Homo sapiens: one gene and its partners. The protein of the gene in region 2 purifies or fractionates together with the protein of the main gene of each other region. This does not show direct contact. Each region holds a gene or a part of one and is shown on either strand. Other genes may lie near its edges.

What was found.
Region 1: the proteins of TNS3 (region 2) and UMPS purify together in Homo sapiens (affinity purification with mass spectrometry, with the first as the bait; one large-scale study listed by BioGRID). This does not show direct contact.
Region 3: the proteins of TNS3 (region 2) and WRAP73 purify together in Homo sapiens (co-immunoprecipitation; one large-scale study listed by IntAct). This does not show direct contact.
Region 4: the proteins of TNS3 (region 2) and FGL1 purify together in Homo sapiens (co-immunoprecipitation; one large-scale study listed by IntAct). This does not show direct contact.

What each region holds. Positions count from the first base shown.
Region 1 is NC_000003.12:124,736,952-124,740,451, forward strand, and holds part of UMPS (uridine 5'-monophosphate synthase), read left to right. Parts: intron 1-616; coding exon 617-1,288; exon of another isoform or gene 1,289-1,492; intron 1,493-3,072; coding exon 3,073-3,248; intron 3,249-3,500. UniProt on the Homo sapiens protein: Bifunctional enzyme catalyzing the last two steps of de novo pyrimidine biosynthesis, orotate phosphoribosyltransferase (OPRT), which converts orotate to orotidine-5'-monophosphate (OMP), and orotidine-5'-monophosphate decarboxylase (ODC), the terminal enzymatic reaction that decarboxylates OMP to uridine monophosphate (UMP).
Region 2 is NC_000007.14:47,362,112-47,365,611, reverse strand, and holds part of TNS3 (tensin-3), read left to right. Parts: intron 1-3,500. UniProt on the Homo sapiens protein: May act as a protein phosphatase and/or a lipid phosphatase. Involved in the dissociation of the integrin-tensin-actin complex. EGF activates TNS4 and down-regulates TNS3 which results in capping the tail of ITGB1.
Region 3 is NC_000001.11:3,636,604-3,640,103, forward strand, and holds part of WRAP73 (WD repeat-containing protein WRAP73), read right to left. Parts: intron 2,220-3,500; coding exon 2,147-2,219; intron 496-2,146; coding exon 392-495; intron 1-391.
Region 4 is NC_000008.11:17,871,525-17,875,024, reverse strand, and holds part of FGL1 (fibrinogen-like protein 1 precursor), read left to right. Parts: intron 1-503; coding exon 504-663; intron 664-908; coding exon 909-1,006; intron 1,007-3,500. UniProt on the Homo sapiens protein: Immune suppressive molecule that inhibits antigen-specific T-cell activation by acting as a major ligand of LAG3. Responsible for LAG3 T-cell inhibitory function. Binds LAG3 independently from MHC class II (MHC-II).

The DNA.
Region 1 (3,500 bases), on a different chromosome or scaffold from region 2:
TTTTCCTTCTGAATTTGTGTCTTCAAAAAGTCAATTATTTGGCTGATCTTGAATAGTGAACTTAAAATACTTTGATGGAAAAAGGAATTATTTCATTCATGATACTGGATTATTCTGTTTCATAACTTTCCTTGATCTAGGTGATCTTGCTGTAAGAAACTCTGTATTTAGGCTGGACGTGGTGGCTCACACCTATAATCCTAGCATTTTGGGAGGCTGAGGCGGGAGGATCACTTGAGCTCAGGAGTTCAAGACCAGCCTAGACAACATAGTGAGACCTCATCTCTATGATAAAACAGATTTTTTTAAAGTAAAAAAAAAACCTCTCTATTTGAAAATTTGATCATAAAACACATTAAGCAGTGTTTATAATGTGAAATAATTTACTTGATTTACTATAAATATACTGTATGTGTAACTGGCAAGTTTGGTATACAGAGTTGGCTTTATACATAAATATACTGTATGTGCAACTAGCAAGTTTGGTATACAGAATTGGTATACACATATACTGTATGTGTAACTGGCAAGTTTTGTATACAGAGTGTGTGTACGTATATACGCACATATACATACATATTTAAATTTGGAATCAGCAAAATTTTTTCTTTTCTAGGAACTAAGCGTCTTGTAGAAGGAACTATTAATCCAGGAGAAACCTGTTTAATCATTGAAGATGTTGTCACCAGTGGATCTAGTGTTTTGGAAACTGTTGAGGTTCTTCAGAAGGAGGGCTTGAAGGTCACTGATGCCATAGTGCTGTTGGACAGAGAGCAGGGAGGCAAGGACAAGTTGCAGGCGCACGGGATCCGCCTCCACTCAGTGTGTACATTGTCCAAAATGCTGGAGATTCTCGAGCAGCAGAAAAAAGTTGATGCTGAGACAGTTGGGAGAGTGAAGAGGTTTATTCAGGAGAATGTCTTTGTGGCAGCGAATCATAATGGTTCTCCCCTTTCTATAAAGGAAGCACCCAAAGAACTCAGCTTCGGTGCACGTGCAGAGCTGCCCAGGATCCACCCAGTTGCATCGAAGCTTCTCAGGCTTATGCAAAAGAAGGAGACCAATCTGTGTCTATCTGCTGATGTTTCACTGGCCAGAGAGCTGTTGCAGCTAGCAGATGCTTTAGGACCTAGTATCTGCATGCTGAAGACTCATGTAGATATTTTGAATGATTTTACTCTGGATGTGATGAAGGAGTTGATAACTCTGGCAAAATGCCATGAGTTCTTGATATTTGAAGACCGGAAGTTTGCAGATATAGGAAACACAGTGAAAAAGCAGTATGAAGGTAAGTGTATTATTCAGGAATCTGCAAGAATCAGAAATCCAGCTTAAACTGAAGAAGAAAAAGGAAATGCTCATGTCATTGAAAGTCCATTCATAGAGCAGGCTGTCAAGCGTGGTTGGATCCAGGAGCTCAAGTGATATCTTCATGACTTGCTTTCTCTCCATCTCTCAGCTCTGCTTTCTTCTCTGTTGACTTCTTTCTCAGGTAGGCATACTCTGCATGCTCACCCCAAACCAATCACTCTAGCTTGGGATGTAGAATACCTTCATTAACTAGCCTGGGCAATTTGCTCTGCAACTGTGAGGTTGTTAACTCTGTATGACCTTCTTGAAATAAGAACCAGTCAGGGATAATTTCCTTAAAGAAAATGGATGTGCTAGTACCAGAAGAAGGGTATGTGCCTGGGCAAGCAAATTTGACAGATGTCCTTGGCAGAATATGATGTTTTGAATGAAAATTCCACATAAAGGAAACAATGAAAAAGAAATATAAAATGGTAAGATTTATTTGTAGCAGAAAAAGTTCTATTGATAAACATTATTTAAAGATTTTTCTTTTATCAAATAGGGACTCAAAGTAGTGCATGTGTTGGTTGAGAAAAATGCTTAGTTCTACTGCCTATTCTATGCAAATTTCTGTCTATGTTTTTACAACTGTGTGATCAGACTATATTTAATGCATTTTTCACTTAACCTGGTAACAGATATTTGGTTGTGTCATATAACATTTTTTGTAGGCATCTTTGAGGTAACTTTTCTTTAATGTATGCATGTTCATAAGCTATTTCTTTAAAATAGATTTGTCTTTAAGTGACTTCTTCATGTGCTTAAGATGTCCTGCCCTCATCACATTGCCTAGCTTACTTTAGCTGATTGACTGACATAAGAGTTTTATACAAACTTTCTTCAGCTCTGCATAGAGTTTTTTCGAAAATCAGGCTTGTTACTGTCCGCTTTTAAAAGGAATATAGTTGCCTATTGAAATTAGATAGCTAAGGAGATCTAAGGAACACGTAGAAATATTGAGCGATAGTAAAGCTGCTGAGAGACCCCTGCAGAGTGAAAACTTGTCATCTTCAAGAAGAATTTTATTTTTATTATTATTTTTTTTGAGATGGGGTCTTGCTCTGTCGCCCAGGCTGGAGTGCAGTGGTGCAATCTTGACTCACTGCAACCTCCACCTCCTGGGCTCAAGTGATCCTCCCACCTCAGCCTCCCAAGTAGCTGGGACCACAGGCATGCGCCACCACACCTAGCTAATTTTTTTGTATTTTTGGTAGAGATGGAGTTTTGCCATGTTGCCCAGGCTGGTCTCGAACTCCTAAACTCAAGCAATCTGCCCACCTCAGCCTCCCAAAGTACTGGGATTACAAGCATGAGCCACCATGCCCAGCTTCAAGAGGAATTTTTAAATGTTATCCTTGACATCAATAAATGTTTATCTTCACTGGAGTCCCTTTCTAATAGCATGAGCTTTATTTGTGGTCATGAGCTTCAGCCTTCAAGGAAAAAGAGTCCTGTTAGTGTTCCAGATAAGCCAAGTGCAGACCTTGAAAGTTTTTTCTCATTGTGATCTCTCACCCAGCTACTTACCTGAATAACAGATACAGTTTTCACAGATGGAACCATGGGTCTGCTGATAATCACTAAAGTTCCTGAAGAGTTTTGATTCTCTCATTAACATGTTACTGGGAGATTATTTCATATTGTAGTTGGTTGGTTGGACAAGACGTTAGAGGTTTTGTTTGAAAATCAGCAAATATCTTTTTTCCCCCTTCTTCTTAGGAGGTATCTTTAAAATAGCTTCCTGGGCAGATCTAGTAAATGCTCACGTGGTGCCAGGCTCAGGAGTTGTGAAAGGCCTGCAAGAAGTGGGCCTGCCTTTGCATCGGGGGTGCCTCCTTATTGCGGAAATGAGCTCCACCGGCTCCCTGGCCACTGGGGACTACACTAGAGCAGCGGTAAGTGGTGGGGGGACTGGGTGAGAGGGGGCAGGGGCTGCTATGCTGCATGCTGCAAGAAGATATCTCCTAATCTGGCGTTTCTGGAACCTCTGCCAAAAAAAAAATCCAGCTCTTGTTAGTGTGACAGTATATTAATACTAGTTGGATAGAATTCCTTGATAGTTAATAGCATTTTATATCATGTAGTGGACACTTCAGGAATTTGAATTATACTCCAAGAGAAACTTTGAGACCCAGATAGTTAGTCAA
Region 2 (3,500 bases):
TTTTGTATTTTTAGTAGAGATGGAGTTTCACCATGTTAGCCAAGAAGGTCTCGATCTCCTGACCTTGTGATCCGCCCCCCTCGGCTTCCCAAAGTGCTGGGATTACAGGCATGAGCCGTTGCTCCCAGCCAAACTCGTTACTTTGAGAACACTTTTTTTTTTTTTTTGAGATGGAGTCTTGCTCTGTCGCCCAGGCTGGAGTGCAGTGGCACAATCTTGGCTCACTGCAACCTCCGCCTCCTGGGTTCAAATGATTCTCTTGGCTCAGCCTCCCGAGTAGCTGGGACTACAGGCGTGCACCTCCATGCCTGGTTAATTTTTGTATTTTTAGTAGAGATGGGGTTTCACCATATTGGCCAAGGTGGTCTTGAACTCCCGACCTCACGATCTGCCCACCTTGGCCTCCCAAAGTGCTGGGATTACAGGCATGAGCCACCGCGCCCAGCCCAATAACACATTTTGATTTTGATTTTAGATACTCTTTAATGCGTTTTATTATAAAAGTTATTTAATTATCATTTTGAAGTCTAAGGACTTTCATATCTCAACAACAGACCAGTAAAATTCAGTGCATATTTGGGTATTGACAATACAAATTTAAAGTATTTATTAATCTATTCATATTTGACAGGCATCTGGGGCCATTGGTCCATTTTTTTCATAGCTTCAGAACTAAAAAGATGTCAGAAGATTAGGTATAAGCAAAACTGGTTACCAGTCTCCCCAGAGCTTTTTAAAATTGGGAAGTGACCTTCTTGTAGGAACCCTGCCACACATGAGCAACTGTCCATGAGCAGTGATGAATGGACACTGAAGGGTTAGCCGCAGCATTGGAAACAGGGCAGAGTGAGCCATGCCCTTCCTGGGAGCTCCGCTTCCTCTTCCAGGACGTGCCTCTTGTGCTAGGTAAGCACCAAGCTGGGAGATGGAGCAAGCCTTGAGACTTGCACTTCATTTAGTGTCAAAAGCCTGCACAGTGTAGAGGTGGTCTCTGAACAGCCTGCATGGCAGGCTTTTGGATCTCAGTCCAAGACTTTCTGACCTGATAGAAATCCCATTAAAAGATGCTTACTGGGCCGAGGCAGGCAGATCACCTGAGGTCAGGAGTTCAAGACCAGCCTGGCCAACATGGCAAAACCCTGTCTCTACAAAGTTACAAAAATTGGTCAGGCATGGTGGTGCATGCCTGTAATTCCAGCTTCTTGGGAGGCTGAGGCAGGAGAATCACTTGAACCCAGGAGGCAGAGATTGCAGTGAACTGAGACCGTGCACTGCACTCCAGCCTGGGTGACAGAGCAAGCACTCTGGCCCAAAAAAAAAAAAAAAAAAAAAAATTATTGCTTACTTCTGTAGCTCTCAGGCACTGCAGCTAAGCAAGGAAGGAATTGTTTCTTCCCTCACTAGCAGGTATAGAAAACACTGGAACTCTTTTGATTTTAAAATTTAAATTTCAGTATTGACATTTCTCAATAGGAAATGGCTACTTTGGCAAGCGGCAGAAAACAAAAATTACTAGATCCTAGCAGGGACACGCGTACAAGTGTGGTAGCAAAGCAGCTAGTTCCGAGTCCCTGGGACATCGTCAGAAGGTTGGGGATGCTGCTGGAGTGCCTGCACTTTGAAGGTGTCCTAGATCCCTCAATCCATATCCGTCTCCTCAGCCAGCCAAAGGAGACCAGGGCTGTTGAGCTGGAGCCCTCCTCTTTCAGCTTAGATCCATGTGTGAATAGGAAGGATTCTGGCACGTCCAAAAGGCTCATGACATGCCCAGAATGGTACCATCACCTAACCCTGCAAGGGGCATCATTTCCACATCTGTGTGCATGAGGTTCAGCCCCATAGATAGTGTGGCATTGCCTGACTGACTGGAGACTACCTTGAGTCTCGCTCACAAGGGGAAACCATAGACTGGAAGTTCTGAGAGCACTATGTCTACATGAGCCCCTTCTTGCTGGCCTGCCTTCCATCTCATCCCTGGACACAAACTGCTACACAACTTTCTTAATTCTGACTGTGGATGAAGGTTTGTCACAGAGACCTCAGCATCCTGAAGTTACCAGAATCTTTCACTATTTGCAGATTATGTCCTCATTATGAGAAAGACCACCACTTGTGGTAGAGAGTTGGGAATAGCATTGCCCTGTGCTCCTCCGGGGGACTTCTGTGCATCCTGCATTATTTATGAGATGAAAATTATATGTGAAGGCTAAGTATTTCCTGAGAAAGTCTTTCATACCAGCACCATAATAATAATAGTGGTGCTGCTGCTGATGGTGGTGATGATCACAGTGATGGTGATGGTGATGATGATGGTGATGGTGATGATGGTAATGACTGTGATGATATTGATGGTGGTGATGGATATGGTGGTGGTGTTGATTGTAATGATGGTGATGTTGATGGTGGTGATGATGTTGATGTTGATGGTGATGACCCTTATGATGGTGATGACTGATGATGATGATGGTGATGATGACAGTGATGATGGTGATGATGATGATGATGATGATGGTGATGACTGTGATATTGATGGTGGTGATGGTGGATGATGACGGTGATGGTGGTGATGATGTTGATGGTGATGGTGATGACCCTGATGATGGTGATGACTGTGATGATGTTGGTGATGGTGATGGTAAATGACTCTGATGATGGTGGTGATGTTGATGGTGGTGATGATGTTAATGGTGGTAATGGTGATGTTGATGGTGGTGATGGTGATGGTGATGACTGTGATGATGTTGATGGTGGTAATGGTGATGGTGATGATGACAGTGATGATGGTTATGACTGTGATGATGGTGATGATGCTGATGGTGGTGATGATGCTTTGGTGATAGTGATGATGACGGTGATGACTGTGATGATAGTGATGATGTTTATGGTGGTGTTAGTGATGGTGATGTTGATGATGTTGGTAATAGTAAGAACTGTTACTCTGAGTGCCTACACTGTTTTAGGTACCTTCATTTCACCAGGACACGTAACAGAGCTCTCGTCTCTCTGACTCTGCACCCCATGGCTATGTCCTAATTCCACTAAACTCACACTCTTACACCAGCCAGTAAACCTGTTGAGGGAAGTGCTCATTATTTTTTTTCCCTGGCATGCAGGAAGAGTTCGACATATGTTTGCAAATACAGGGGTCTGGGACAGGCGGAACTGCAAATGATCCTTTTGAGACCTGAACTACTCTGCTGAATGGGCACTGAGGGGAGATTTATCGCTGGACAGTGTAGAGTAGCCCTGCCCACCTACAAGATCAGAGAGAGGCCCTCCAGAGGTGGGGTATCACAAAGCTCTGGTGGCTGAGACCTGGGTGCTCTGTGTGCCAGTGAGCACAGTTTTGTATCCTTCTTGTAGAATGGGTGAGATTCAGGGAGTTGGTTTGGGGACATTTTACTCCCCACAAGTGCCTGCCAGCCATGAGGCCCTGCTCCCTCACTCTGGTCTGACTTCTGCTGCCACTGGTGTTTTGTGGAAGAGCCCCTGGGTGCTGC
Region 3 (3,500 bases), on a different chromosome or scaffold from region 2:
CTGCTGTGGGGGCAGTGCCCTCTGTGCCTGGGCACCTGGCAGAGCGCCCTGCCTAATGCAGGCCCTCAGTCAAGGTGAACTTCCACGTCCCCCCAACTCCCGACGTGGCACACACATGCGCAAACACCATCACACAGGACAAGGAAAAGGGCTCAAATGTGACAGCATATTCACTTTTAAAACACCTGGGCACGCGTCCTTTTCACCAAGTCTCCTGAACACACAACCGGGTGCCACTGGAAGTGATTCGCAGCGCACCTGCCCTTTGTTAATACAACATCACCTTGCTCCATATCCTACCAAAGATCCCCTGGAATCTGGAAGGATCTACTTCACTCGATCCCTCCACAGTCAGCAGGACAACTTTATTCCAGTCTGGGGGACGCCTTACCCGCAGGAGCTGCCAATCACTGCAGACGAAGATGCTCACGTAATCTTTGCAGTCGCGCCGTTCTGCCAGCGCCATGTAGCGGCCGTCCCTGGTGAAGGTGATTCCTGTGGGAAGAGGCAAATGCACTGAAATCAAGCGGCCACAAAATCAAGCAAGAGAAACCACAGTAGTAATTCACAAGGAAGGAGGAGGAAAAGAAAGCAGAGGTGAAAAGAAGGGAAATGGCACAATGCCGAGCACTGCTCCTCAGACAGACAAGAACATTCTAGCGCAGAGGAGAAACCCAAGGCACGGTGCCTTCACCCTCACAACGCAGTGTGTGCTGGGGGAAGCTGTACACACACAGGAGCCGGTTTGCAAGGCTCTGTCAAAAATACCAAGTGATGTGACCTCTGATTAATCACAAATATGAGTGAGAAACACAGGCCTTCGAGTCCCCCCATGTCTAAGCTGCGGGACACCCAGGGCTATCTCCAGCTAGGCAAAAGGCAGCTGGTTCCTACCATATTTATTTTACCTTTGAATTTAATTATTTGGAAGAAGTAAACTGAAGATGAAAATGTGTGGCCAGGCATGGTGGCTCACGCCTGTAATCCCGGCACTTTGGGAGGCTGAAGCAGGTGAATCGCTTGAGCCTAGGAATTTGAAAGGAGCCCAGACAACTTGGTGAAACCCCATCTCTACAAAATATCAGCCGGCTGTGATGGTGTGTGCCTGTAGTCCCAGCTACTCAGGAGGCTGAGGTGAGAGGATCACTTAAGCCCAGGAGGTCGAGGCTGCACTGAGCTGTGATCGTGTCACTGCACTCCAGCCTGGGTGACAGAGCAAGACCCTGTCTCAAAAAAGTAATAATAAGATGAAAATGTGGAAGAAACTTTAGTTGAAAATGTTAAACTCTTATTTTCCAGTTCTGTATTAGCTTAAAAAGCCCTAGGCCAGAATTCATCATTCCTGAGTGAAAAGAATACCTCAAATGACGAAACCACGGTGTCCACTCCTATCAAGAGATATGTATCTCATCTGGAGGGACGCTAATATTCCAACTATAAGAATAAGAGTGTGACTGCATTGCATTCAAATGCAATTTCCAAACCGCTGGCAGCAACAGAGAAAAATGAAAGCATCATTCCAACTGTGTATGTTTCATTCCGCAAAAAGACAGTGCGGTGTCGTCCAGGACTCAGGAGTGGCACCTCCCACTAGCTCTGCGCGGTCCAGTTAGACGCGCTGGCAGTGGGCCACCCTGCGCCGGCCCCCTTTCTTCCAGATGGCTCACAGGCTTCCACAAGGAAGGGACACTGGTCACATATCCCTCTGGGATGCCCAGAGATGACAGGCAAGACCTCCCCCTTTCGCAGACATCATATTTAGTCCACAGAAGAGAGAAAGCTCAGAACTGGATGCCTGAGGTGGGCCTCTCAACAGGCATCGGCTGGAAGGGGTCTGAACGCCCAGCTCTGCCGCCAAGGTCAAGGGGACCGGCATCAACGCCACCGTTCTTCCATGTCTTAGGCCACGTTGTCTTGAGTCACTGTGGTCATGTTTTAAAAGGGGACTCTTGCCTTTTTGAGACACATATGGAAATATTTACAGATGAAGTATGAGGAGACCTAAGGTCTCCTTTAAAAGAGCCCAAGGGGGTTGGCTATGTGTTGATATGCTGCTGAAGCTACTTCTGCCTCTTTGAAACTTCCCGTGACAAAAAAGTCAAACAGCTGCAAAGAAATGGCTTTTGCGTGGCTCCGATCGACTCACCCTGCAGACAAGCTTTCGGGTATTTGATGTAAGACACGGATTTTGTGCACAAGGACCAGACGGTTATCCGCAGCTGTTGGGGGAAAGGGGAAAGAGAAAGGAAACACTTCTTTAGCATCATCAGAGACCGTCTCAATCCTCAACCCGCCCACGCGTCCCCAAGCACAGGCCTGACTGCTGGAGTGGATCTATCAGGACCTGGGGGATGCCTGCCCTCCTACCGGAATATTCAAATGCGTATTTTACTGTGGTTACGGTAAATTTGGTGTTCTTGGTTTTCTGTTGTTGTTGTTTTATACCAAAATTGAGTGACACAAAGTTAAATCCAAGTGCTTTTTCATTAGCTTTTTCAAAGTGACCATAGGTTGCATGTTATAATAACCCTGAGTTACTCAGAGAAAAATCTTGATCTAGAAACCACCACGGGTTCAGTCTCCTTTATGGGAAGACAGAGGATCTGGAGATTGGATGCAGCCACTCCGGGACTCACCAGGGGGCTGTGAGCCTGCATCTGCAGCCCTGAGGCAGGAGCAGCCACTCAACACCCAAGAAGGTGTCCGTCTGCCTCCTGCGTGTGCTCGCTGGCCTGGCTGCATCTGCAGAGGGTTCTAGAACATGCGCTGCTGGACTGTCCACTTTTCCACCCCTTTCCCTGACTCAGGGAGCTGAGAGCTGACTAGGCTGGCACAGTGAGGCCAAAAGATGATTTTCTAACCAGGCCGACGAGGGCGTGCCTGCTGAGGGAGAGGCACCGCAGTGGGTGGTCCAGCCCTCCCCGTGGCAGCGCCGCGGGACTTCCAGGGCTGCTGTGTCCCTCCACCTGCATTTCCCACTGAGACCCCGTGGAGCCTACCAGGGAATCATCTTGCTTCCCACATCCCCGGCCCACTGATGAATCTGGTAGTTAACTGAAATATGGCCGAGGTGCGGGGACACAAGGTGCGGGGTGGGGTGCTGACTGCCAGCTCCGTGTGTGGGGACACAGGGCTGCGCAGCTCCATGTGGGGTGGGGTGCTGACTGCCAGCTCCGTGTGTGGGGACACAGGGCTGCGCAGCTCCATGCGGGGTGGGGTGCTGACTGCCAGCTCCGTGTGTGTCAGGCAGGGGTCCTCGCTGAGGATGAGGCCCGGGGTGGGGGACCGTCTCCAGCAGCGTAAGTGGGGCCGCAGCGTGTGGGGCACAGCATGTCCACAGTGTCACTCCTGCAAACGCTGCCAGGTTGTCAGTATAGGATATTAACAAATGATTTAATTTAAATGTCTACGCATCATCTCTTCTTACAACAGAAAAGAAAATCTGATGTCTGTAATTGTTTCTCCAAACAACATATACAGCGTTCAGGAGAGAAGTCCTG
Region 4 (3,500 bases), on a different chromosome or scaffold from region 2:
AAACTGTAAGTTCCACCTAAATATACTGTTATTAACAGACTACTCATAACTTGTTTTTTTTAAGATTGTTTTCTACAAAACTCAGAAATTAGAAACTAAGCTCACACCTGTAATCCCAGCCCTTTGGGAGTCTGTGGTGGGAGGATAGGATTGTTTGAAGCCAGGAGTTCGAGACCAGCCTGGGCAATATAGTGACACGCCCCCATTTCTTAAAAAAAATGTAAAAGAAAAAAGAAGAAAGAAACAAAAAACTAGATTCTTATTTCACTCCCCTTTTTTCCTCGATGATTATATCAAGGATTCAGGTGGCAAATTTTAGCAAAGGAAATAAAACTTTCCTAATATCCACTGGAAGATGTACAAGATGCAATTTTAAAACGCTGATTTCTATACCATGTGTTATCTGTCTCCAGTGATACTGAGTAGTCTCATTCAGAGGCTCCCTAAGGCGGGGGGAGAAAAAGACACATAATGAATGTTACATTACCTTGTTTTAAAAACAGATTGTTCAGAGATTTTCAATGATGGGTATAAGCTCAGTGGATTTTACAAAATCAAACCTCTCCAGAGCCCAGCAGAATTTTCTGTTTATTGTGACATGTCCGATGGAGGAGGATGGACTGTAATTCAGAGACGATCTGATGGCAGTGAAAACTTTAACAGGTGTGCTAATTATGATGTAAGACTTTATATGTAGCAGCAAATGTGAGATTTATAAGTCAAATATTTTGATCATATCCTGAAGCCTATTAATTAGACAGAATTTCAATCTCTCTAAAGAAGAATACTGAAAATGAATTAACTAATCAAGAAAATATTGGAGGTGGTGGTAGCAGGGGGTGGGTGGTGGTCGCTTTGGTACCACAAATGGAGTTTGCTCTAATCGGCTTCCACTTTACCTTTTTTAGAGGATGGAAAGACTATGAAAATGGCTTTGGAAATTTTGTCCAAAAACATGGTGAATATTGGCTGGGCAATAAAAATCTTCACTTCTTGACCACTCAAGGTAAGGTTTGAATGATGTCAGATTTATTTGAAATATAATAAAAACAACACTAAAATTTTTTTTTAACCAAATTATAGGCAATGGAACTAATTCAATAATTGCTATGATTTGCAGATGGCAGTGATAACTTTTGGGCAATAATCCCAAATGTAAAATGTGGCTGCCTAAAATTAGAAACAGAAAAAAAAGCTAGAATTGGGTTGCGGGGAATTGTTTTCACATATATATTTATGAGAAATATCTAAATATATTTATAGATATATATACATTCTATACATAGTATATATGTAGCTATATATAGATATATAGAATATAAGTCGCTATATGTATCTATAGATATATATAGAATATATATATATTCTACTTCTGAAAAGGATATATAATGTCATAATTATTCCTTTTTGATGCCTTGAGTTCCTGGAGATTATATATGCTGTATCAGTTACCTAATGTCACAATAATAACGTGTAACAATCCTCTTCCAAAGCTTAGTGGCTTAAAATCAACAACCATTTATTACTTCTCACAAATCTGCAGGTTGGCTGGGTGATTTTGCTGATCAGGGCTGGGCTCTGCTGATCATGGCTGGGCTTGCTTATGAGTCTGCCATCAACTTCCTCACTGAAGTTGCTGCTCTGGGATGGAAGGATTCAACCTGGCTCCATAGGGTCTCTCATCTTCCAGCTAGCTAGCCTGGACTTGTTTTTGTAGCACAGGCAGGGTTCCACAAAAAAGAGTGGATGTATATAAGTCTCTTGAGATCTAGGCCCAGAATTGGCATGGAGTCATTTTTCTTCTATTGGTGAAAGCAAATCACAGGAGCAGCTCAGACTTTTTTTTAAAAGGAAGTAAACAATAGGAGGAGCTATGAAGACATATTATGAGAGAGAGGTGAACAATTGGGCAATTGGTGCTATTTTTCCAATAAAACACTATAATATATGAAATGTCCATGTTTCCACATACATCTCATCTTTAATGCTGAAATTTTTTCAAAGCTGCAACCAATTTGAAAGAAGTTTCAACCTACCACCTGTATCCTACATTAACATTTTACTTTGCTTGTTTTTGTTACGTATCTATCCGTTTGCCCATTACTCAATCCGTCCATCAATCCATCTTTTCTGTATATATATTTCAAAGTAAATAGCAGACATCTGGATGTCTCCCTATATACTTTTAAATTCTTATCTTTAGAGTTTAATATTTGTCTAAAATATCATTGTTTTGATAACGACTTTTCCCAGCTTCTATCTCCCATGTTCTTTTGCTCCAATCCATTGTCTTCCCTACCTCTGTTGTAGTCTGAGATTATCATCAGTCCCACTCAAGTCTGATCCTGAATCCTTCATAAAAGGCAACTGTAATGCCCAAAAAAGCATGCTAAGTTACACTGCAATTGCATTAAAAATAAACAGCTGGGCATGGTGGCTCATGCCTGTAATCCCAGCACTTTGGGATGCTGAGGTGGGTGGACCCCTTGGGGCCAGGATTTCGAGACCAGCCTGGCCAACATGGTGAAACCCCATCTCTACTAAAAATACAAAAATTAGCCAGGCATGGTGGCACAGCACTGTAATCCCAGCCACTTGGGAGGCTGAGGCAGGAGAATTGCTTGAACCCAAGAGGCGGAGGTTGCAGTGAGCCAAGATTGCGCCAATCCACTCCAGCCTGGGTGACAGAGCAAGACTCTGTCTCAAATAATAATAATAATAAAGTAATTAAGATAAAACAAAAGTTCCTTTGTTCCATCCAAGTTCTGGAAAGCTATTGGTGTTTCTATATTTATAGTAGTAGGCTTATGGTTATAAAGTTCTTTGAGACACTAGAATGATAAACATTAGACAGGATGAGTAATCCTAGAAACCTTATACTTTCTTTGTATGTCCTTCTTATGATCAGTGCTCTCTAAATTTACATAACGCTTCCTTTCCTTCAACATATCTATTATTCTAGTTTTAAGTGTTTTATGCCAGATATATAAAATTTGCCATACCAACTTCTGTTTCATTTGCACATTGATATTTATCTGGTTTCTTATTGAAACTATGAAAACCCCAGAGCAGTAACCCTTGGCTCTTTCTAAATATATGAAATTCAAACGTATTATTTTTTAAGTTATTATGATGTACATATTTTCCCAGAGGAACTTTGCCAACAAACCTGTTCCTTTTCATATATCAACTTGGTACTCAGGCTGGCTAATCTCGTTGGAGAAAAAACGTGTTTTTCAGTTCCTGGGCCCCCACCCACGTATCCCATCAATCCAGACAATAGCCAGTGTTTTTGTCTCTGCATTCTTTAATTATGAGAGCATTACGGCTAATGAATTAATGAATTACCTCTGAGAATAGCTTTATCCCCACTACATAAATCTCAACTAGAAGTAGTGGCAATAAAATTGATTTAGAAATGGTAAATATAATTTGTTTACTTATTGAACAAAGAGACATTTCAATGTTAGCCAAAAAATTGAGTCTTTATGTCTCTGTTA